2 linked regions of the Homo sapiens genome follow. The protein of the gene in region 2 interacts with the protein of the main gene of each other region in a pairwise test. Each region holds a gene or a part of one and is shown on either strand. Other genes may lie near its edges.

Evidence for each region. Proteins that work in one complex are often made in the same cells at the same time.
Region 1: the proteins of SAR1A (region 2) and CD53 interact in binary tests that used the Homo sapiens proteins (3 or more experiments, as listed by UniProt).

Annotation. Positions count from the first base shown.
Region 1 is NC_000001.11:110,889,976-110,893,747, reverse strand, and holds part of CD53 (leukocyte surface antigen CD53), read right to left. Parts: intron 2,357-3,772; 5' UTR 2,340-2,356; coding exon 2,277-2,339; intron 1,404-2,276; coding exon 1,215-1,403; intron 1-1,214. UniProt on the Homo sapiens protein: Structural component of specialized membrane microdomains known as tetraspanin-enriched microdomains (TERMs), which act as platforms for receptor clustering and signaling.
Region 2 is NC_000010.11:70,169,122-70,172,721, reverse strand, and holds the start of SAR1A (small COPII coat GTPase SAR1A), read left to right. Parts: upstream 1-2,207; 5' UTR 2,208-2,309; intron 2,310-3,600. UniProt on the Homo sapiens protein: Small GTPase that cycles between an active GTP-bound and an inactive GDP-bound state and mainly functions in vesicle-mediated endoplasmic reticulum (ER) to Golgi transport.

The DNA.
Region 1 (3,772 bases), on a different chromosome or scaffold from region 2:
AAAACATTTGCCTTACCCCATGTCTGCTATCTTCCATCCTTTGCCATTAGTCTGACAACTATCTGAGAAGAGGGACTTTTTAAAAAATTCTTTCTCTTGGCTCCAGTTTAAGAGTTGACCCATACAGACTGGGCGCAGTGGCTTACGCCTATAATCCCAACACTTTGGGAGGCCGAGGCAGGTGGATCACCTAAAGTCGGGAGTTAGAGACCAGCTTGACCAATATGGAGAAACCCTGTCTCTACTAAAAATTCAGAATTAGCCGGACATGGTGGCGCATGACTGTAATCCCAGCTACTCGGGAGGCTGAGGCAGGAGAATGGCTTGAACCCGGGAGGCGGAGGCTGTGGTGAGCTGAGATCATGCCATTGCACTCCAGCCTGGGCAACAAGAGTGAAACTCCATCTCCAAAACAACAACAAGAAGAAAAAAACAAAACAAAAAACCACCACCAAAATGTTGAACCATAATGGAAAAAAGATTAACCAAATGATTTAAGGAAGAACCAATGTGATTAGAAACCCACGCCTATTGGTAGAGTGGCACTGTTACACCAAGCTCTGTTCTGGGAACACTACAGAAATGTAGAGCTCAGTGCTCTACAGGCACTGTGCTTACAGGCAAAACCTAAGCCTTAAGGTACTCCTCAGGATAGTACCTGATAGGGAACATGCAAAAGGCTGTAGCATCTCTCACATTAGACCTCAATGGCTGCAGCCAGAGCCCTCACCTAAGTTGGATCTCTCTACGGAGTATCTTGTGCAGACATGAGTTAAGGAAGCATCCTTTGGCATTTGGGGAGGAAAGAGCCTAGAAATTATTTTCCATTAGTTAGCGACTCTCAGTCAGAATCTGAAAGTACATAATAATAGCTAGCATGAGGAGGATTTTGGAAGATGGATGACACCTGATTTCATCCAGACATAAAGAAAAAATAAAATGCTATAAAGGGGAATTACAATAATGACAAAAGTCATTATTAGCAATATAAAAATGGCTACAAGGGGGATAGCAATGCCCTCTTTCACCTGTCCGTGGGACCCTAGTCATACATAATATACTATTGGTCTGGGCAGACTTGGCTGATCTGAGGTACCAATCTCATTTTCCTATGATCTTTCTGTGCCTATAAGTGATCTACCAAGAAACATCTTGCCTGGGATTTAGGCACCATCTCCCCGACTTGGGGCACCACATCTGCTGTAAGGACTCACCGACATAAGCAGACACTTGTTTTCCTTGATAGAGCCCATGCAGCCCAGGAAGGCAACTACCATGATAATAGAGCCCACGATGACAAACACATTGCCCAGCGTGAGGGAGGGGAGGTTATGGAAGAGCACTCCGAAGTTGTTGTGGATCAGCAGGTAGATCCCAAAGCCCAAAATGCAGCAGCCACAGATCTGAAAGGAAGAATCCCACAACATCCTGAAGCAAAATGTGGTTCTTGGGTATCTCCTCATATTCTCACTTCCTTGAGATCAGAATCACTTTATTTTTAACTGGCTCAATCAAGAGTCTCATGAACAATTTCTTTACCAAACTTTTCCATGCTTACATTGGAGAGGCAATCTCAGCTTTCTCATGTGGAGACCTACTCACAACTCTTCCTACCCATCTCCAGATACCAAGGAAAGATCACTTCTGTGAGCCACACAGTATCTTCACCATATATAGGTCTAACTTCTTTTTCCTTATCTTTTCAGTCGCTCACACATGGCTTTCTCTGTAGAAACCATGACCATGTAGAGAAGATGCCCTGCTTGAGGAAGCTCATCTTGCTAGGCAGAAAACTAGAGAAGCCAAACTTATAATAATCTTCTCATATACACAAGTACCAACCCATCCTATATCTGAAATTCAATTGCTGAATTTTATACAGTGAAACCTCCCTGGAAAGGGTGACTTTCCTTTCAATCACTTATTGTTTCAAGGAATCTAGAAAAAAAGACAAGAAAAACAGAGGCACTCAATATCCAGAGCACAGTCTCAGGTTTCTCACCTATATATGTTAGCTACGAGTAGTAGTAAACTAAAGCCCTCAGAGAGAAACAGCACCTCCATTAATAACTGCACTGGTACCTTTCAATTTTGCAGGTTTATTCTGTGGCAGGAAGAGGGGAAAAATTATTACTCTTTTGTTTCTAGGATGGTTGTGCTGGACATGACCCAAACACGCATGCATTTTACCCCACACCAGCCTCTTCAGTAGAGGAATGAGGAGAGCTTAGCTGGGTAAAGGTGAGCTAAACCGTGCTCAGAAGAGATACACTTACCCAAAAGAGCAAGTTGAAGAAAAACAGGACATACTTCAGCAGTTTCAAGCTACTCATGCCCATGCCGTGATATTCTTGCCCTAAGGAATAAGGAAGAAGAAAGTAAGTTACCTCACTCTGTAAGGTAGCCAGAGATCAGAGTGCACAAATGTTCAGGGATCTCTAGCATTACCTTGGGTTTGAGCTGTGGCTCTCCTCTGGAAAGTTTCCCCAAACTCTGCGCTTTCCTAGTTCTAAACTGAAATACCAACTGGCTCATCTTAGACATTCAGTTTTTGCCCAATTCGGCAAGCCAACAATGCTTAACATTGAATTAAGTATTGTAGAAGAAAATAGAGCCATTCTTAGAAGAGGATGAGTCACAGTGACAGAGACCAGGCCAGTGCTTTAGCTCTAACTGCAGCATTAGCAACTAGTGCCTGGGCACTTAAGCCCTTGAAGTCAGGGATGGACTGGTCAATCAGCCATCAAGAAAGCCAACAGCTTGATCAGCCAGTTTCTTAAATACTCTGTGATTTATGTACATGCTACATTTGATCAGTAAACTTCTCCACATGAAAGTAGGGGGAACATATCCACGCCTCATTTATTCTTTTATTGCAGAAACATTTATGTTTTCTGTTCTAGATGTTGTGGAAGATGCAACCATGACTAAGCAGTAGCTATCCTCCAGAAGACAACAGTCTTACAGCAAAGATAAAACAAGCCAACAAATATGCAATGGGGAAGTAAAAAGAGATAGCAATGTAAGCTTTATTTTTTTCAACTAGAATATCATTTTCTTAGTGAGGACATCAATGTCCAATGTCTGGTTCTCAATTCTAGAAATCCAGATACAGAATTTTGACTTTTCCTTTTCGCTTTCCTTTCCTTTCTCTTTCTCTTTCTCTCTTTCTTTCTTTCTTCTTTCAGGGTCTCAATCTGTCACCCAGGCTGGAGTGCAGTGGCACAATCTCAATTCACTGCAACCTTCACCTCCCAGGCTCAAGTGATCCTCCCACCTCAGCCTCCCAGGTAGCTGAGACTAAAGGCATGCACCATCATGCCCGGATAATTTTTGTATTTTTAGTAGAAACGAAGTTTCACCATGTTGCCTAGTCTGGCCTCAAACTTCTGACCTCAGGTGATCCGCCTGCCTCGGCCTCCCAAAGTGCTGGGATTACAGGCATGAGCTACCGCACCTGGCCAGAATTTTGAATTTTCTGTCAGAGGTAATGATATTCTATAAAGTGACTCATTTTTAAAACCGTGCACAGGACTGATATATCAAGCAGAATGTTGGGGCAGTGATTTTTTTCCATTAAAATTATGCCTTTTCCAGTGCATGGGTCACTTGTGCAATCCATAGTATCTCCTTTGCAGTTTCAAGGTACCTGGGAATCACATGGTCTTGAGGGAATAGTTCATCCAGGCTGTAGATAAGCCTGATGAGCTACTTCTCTTCCACAATAAAGTGAATTTCTCTGTTGTAAACACCAAATACTTGTATCTATCTC
Region 2 (3,600 bases):
AAAGCGCTGGGATTACAGGCATGAGTCACCACGCCCGGTCTAGATTTTCAATCATACCCAGAAAGGTCTTCTCATTGCAAAATTATAAGGAATCCATGCTTTCTTCTGTTTTTCTAGTACCTTTATAGTGTCATTTCAAAATACACACATCTTTTCATCACTTGAAACTTGTTTAGAGTAATAAACTTTTGGAGATTCAACCTGTAGGTTTTTTTGACTACCCAATTGTCTCAACCCCTTTTATTATTTATTAATTTATTTAACAACACATAACAGAATCATTTATTGAAAACAGTACTCTGGAAAAACTATGTGCACAACAATGCCTGTTTCACCCATTTTACAGTGGGTACATGGTGGTCTGGGGCATTCGTCAACTTGCTCAAGCCTTTAGGTAAGTAGAGTTTGCGGCTTTTCTGAGAATCTGCCTGCATGTTCCCTCCTTCCCCAGCCTCCCAAGCCATCCTGTGGTTCAGACACCTCCACCTCGTGCAGCCAGGCTCTCAACAAAGCCAGTAATCCAATGTGTTGGCTTGCACTGGGCTTGCATCTGTGTCTCCAGGATGCACAAGGGGTTCCAAGCCCCATGGACACATTGTCCCTGGTTTAGCTAAAGCTGGTGAGAAGCCTCAGAAGTGGCCTGACACCTTTCTGTGACAGGACAGGGTTCAAATTCAACATCTAAGACCCCAGGATGAGCGGAGGGTAGAGGGTGGTGAGCTTGCCCACTCAGCTCCCTGAGTATTGCTGGAGTCCCAGGTGCTACTTTAGTTTTATTTCTGCATGTACTTTAGTCATTTCTGTACTTTGCTCTGTTCCATTGTGTTTTTTGTGTGTGTGTGTTTGTGCATGTGCACGCACACCAGTTTTAATAACTTAGGCTCTATAATATGTTTTAATATCCAACAGGGTTAGTTCCCACCTCCTTGTTCTTCATTTTGAAAGCCTGTTTCTGGACTAGTTTTGTTTGGTTTTCTATACGAATTTTAGGAACAAATAGGGTAATTAAAAAAAAAGAACGAAACCACACACGACCTATTAATCCTATTAGTACTTTTATTGGGATTATGTTAAATTTAAATTTTACTAAAGGAGAATTGAGATCTTCATGAACCCACAGACGTCATTCATCTTTCCATTAGACTGTTTTATTTGTAAAATGAGAGTAATAATAGTACCAATCTCGTGGGACTGTCCTGAGAATTAAATGAGAAAATGCATGCGAAATATACTGGGGTGAACACGTTGCTTTGCCACTTAGCTGTGTGAACTTGGGCATGGTAGGTTATTCTGAACATTGCTCTCTCATTTGTCAATAAGGATAATACTAGCATCTGGAGTCACAGGACTCCAATGACGGTGAAATTAGACAAAGCGTGCAAAGTACCCAGTGCTCTGCCTGGAACATAAGTGCACAATAAATATTAGCTGTTTTTCTGTTTTTCTAAAACATAGGCCACCCCAGGGCAAGGAAGTGCGACTCAAAGCAAAAGCAGCTGGGCGCGGTGGCTCACGCCTCTCATCCCAGCATTTTGGAAGGCCGAGGCCAGCGGATCACTTGAGGTCAGAAGTTCGAGACCAGCCTGGCCAACACGGTGAAACCTGTCTCTGTAAAAATACAAAAAAATTAGCCAGGTGTGGTGACATGCGCCTGTAGTTCCAGCTACTCGGGAGGCCGAGGTATGAGAATCGCTTGAATCCGGGAGGTGGAGGTTGCAGTGAGCCGAGATCGCGCCACTGCACTCCAGCCTGGGCGACAAAGTGAGACTCCGCCTCAAAAAAAAAAAAAAAAAAAAAAAAAGCAAGGAAGAAAAAAAGCAAAAGCTTGGAGGGATCCACCTCAAGTGGAGGGCCCCAAGGTCAACTCATCTTTCCCAGGACCTATGTCACCGTCGGTACCCACTTCTGACTTTCCTGGTGCGTCTGGAATGGGAAGCCGCGATCCCGAGTGTACCAGGCCGCTCAGGGACTCCAGGACCCAGCCCCGGACCCAGGGTTCCGGCGCTGCCACGTCTCGCGCGGTCAGCTAGCCAGACGGGAGCAGGCGGGGCCGAGGCGGGGCCAGACCCCGAGCGCGCTTTGTCACGCCTTATGCCCGCCCCTCCGCGGCCCGAGTCGCTGGTGGGACGGCACCGGGGCAGAGAGGCGTAACGCTGTGAGGGGGCGGGGCCCATTACGCGCCCGGAAGTCCCGGGGAGGGGTGTGACGTACATCCGGCGAGTAGCTGGCGGTCCCGGGTGCTGCTGGTTAGTGTGCTCTGAGGGAGGGTCCGAGCCAGCCGCTGTTTTGCCGGAGGAGCCCCTCAGGCCGTGAGTCTGAGGGTCGCGTCGGGGAGGGGAGTTGGGGCTCGAGGGGCTGGGACGGAAGGCGGGGAGGTCGGAGCGGAGGCTGGCCCTGGCGGGGTTGGGTGGGGGGGAAGTGACACGCAGGCGGTTCTGTGGGGCCGCGGGGCTGATTCTGGGCGGGGACGGGACAACTTGGCCAGATCTGCTCCGTCCCCTGCTGTCCTCTTTGCCTGGGGTCCACTTGCATTCCGCTCGGGGGTCTCGCAGCTGCTGGGCCGGATAACAGTTTCTTGTCTGTACCGTGCGCTCCGGTTTACGAAATGGCTCCATGTCCTCTGTCTCGGAAGAGCCTCACAGCCCTCGGTGAGGCGGGTGGGAGCCCTTTATGATTATCCTTGTTTTGTAGACTCGGAGACTGAGGCTGGCCAAGGCTCCGCAGTTAGCGAGTGTGAGCGCTCGAACCTGGTCTACAGGCCCCTAGTCCAGGGCTTACCCCCAAGTCAGCGCTTGGTTGTCTTCCGATGGCCCGGGTCGAACCCTGTATTTTCTCCTTCTCCCTTCCCCTTTTCCCCTGTCTGGTCTCTGCATGGAAAAATTTCCTTATGTGCATTTGACATGGATTAGCGTTTTCTTCACGATTCTAGCCAGTGGGTCAGGAGCATCTTTGTCTTGTTGATTCCATCGGCTTCGGTTGCGACAGGGGGCTTAGGGAGATTCGCCATGGGGCTGACCTTTGACATTTACCCCGCAGCTAAGCAGAGTTAGCTAAAAGCCAGCCGCCTACTACCCCAAATCTGCCTGGAATGGCGTCTTAAAGTTGCCCTGATTATGTATAACAAGTAATGCGTAAATTTTTAAATTGGCTAATGGTCAGATTGGTGCCCTCCTTTTCTATTAACATTTGTTTGAATCATTTAGCCCTGGAATTCGCAAGTTTTCATTTTAGGTACATTAATAGTGTTTTGTTGATAGTTTAGAGACCTACCTTAAATTTTAGATTACTCTTAACTTCTCGTAAGGTGGTACAATGGACCAAGAATAGAAAATAAATAGAATGCTAGTTATTAAAATACCATTCAAAAGATGTGATGAGTTGTAAGGAAGAGAACTTCGGAAGATCATCCTCTGTGTAGTTGGTGGGTTAAAGAAGTTTTAGTTTTTTTTTTTTTCCCCAGCAATTTTGTGGTTTGGGTTTGAATTTTATGTACTGTTAACAGGAAGAGCTTAGGCTTTGGTGTTAGAGATGAGGGTTTAAGCCCTGGCACTATTACTTTTTCAACTGAGCCGTCTTAAAGGACTCAGCAAAACTAGGAGT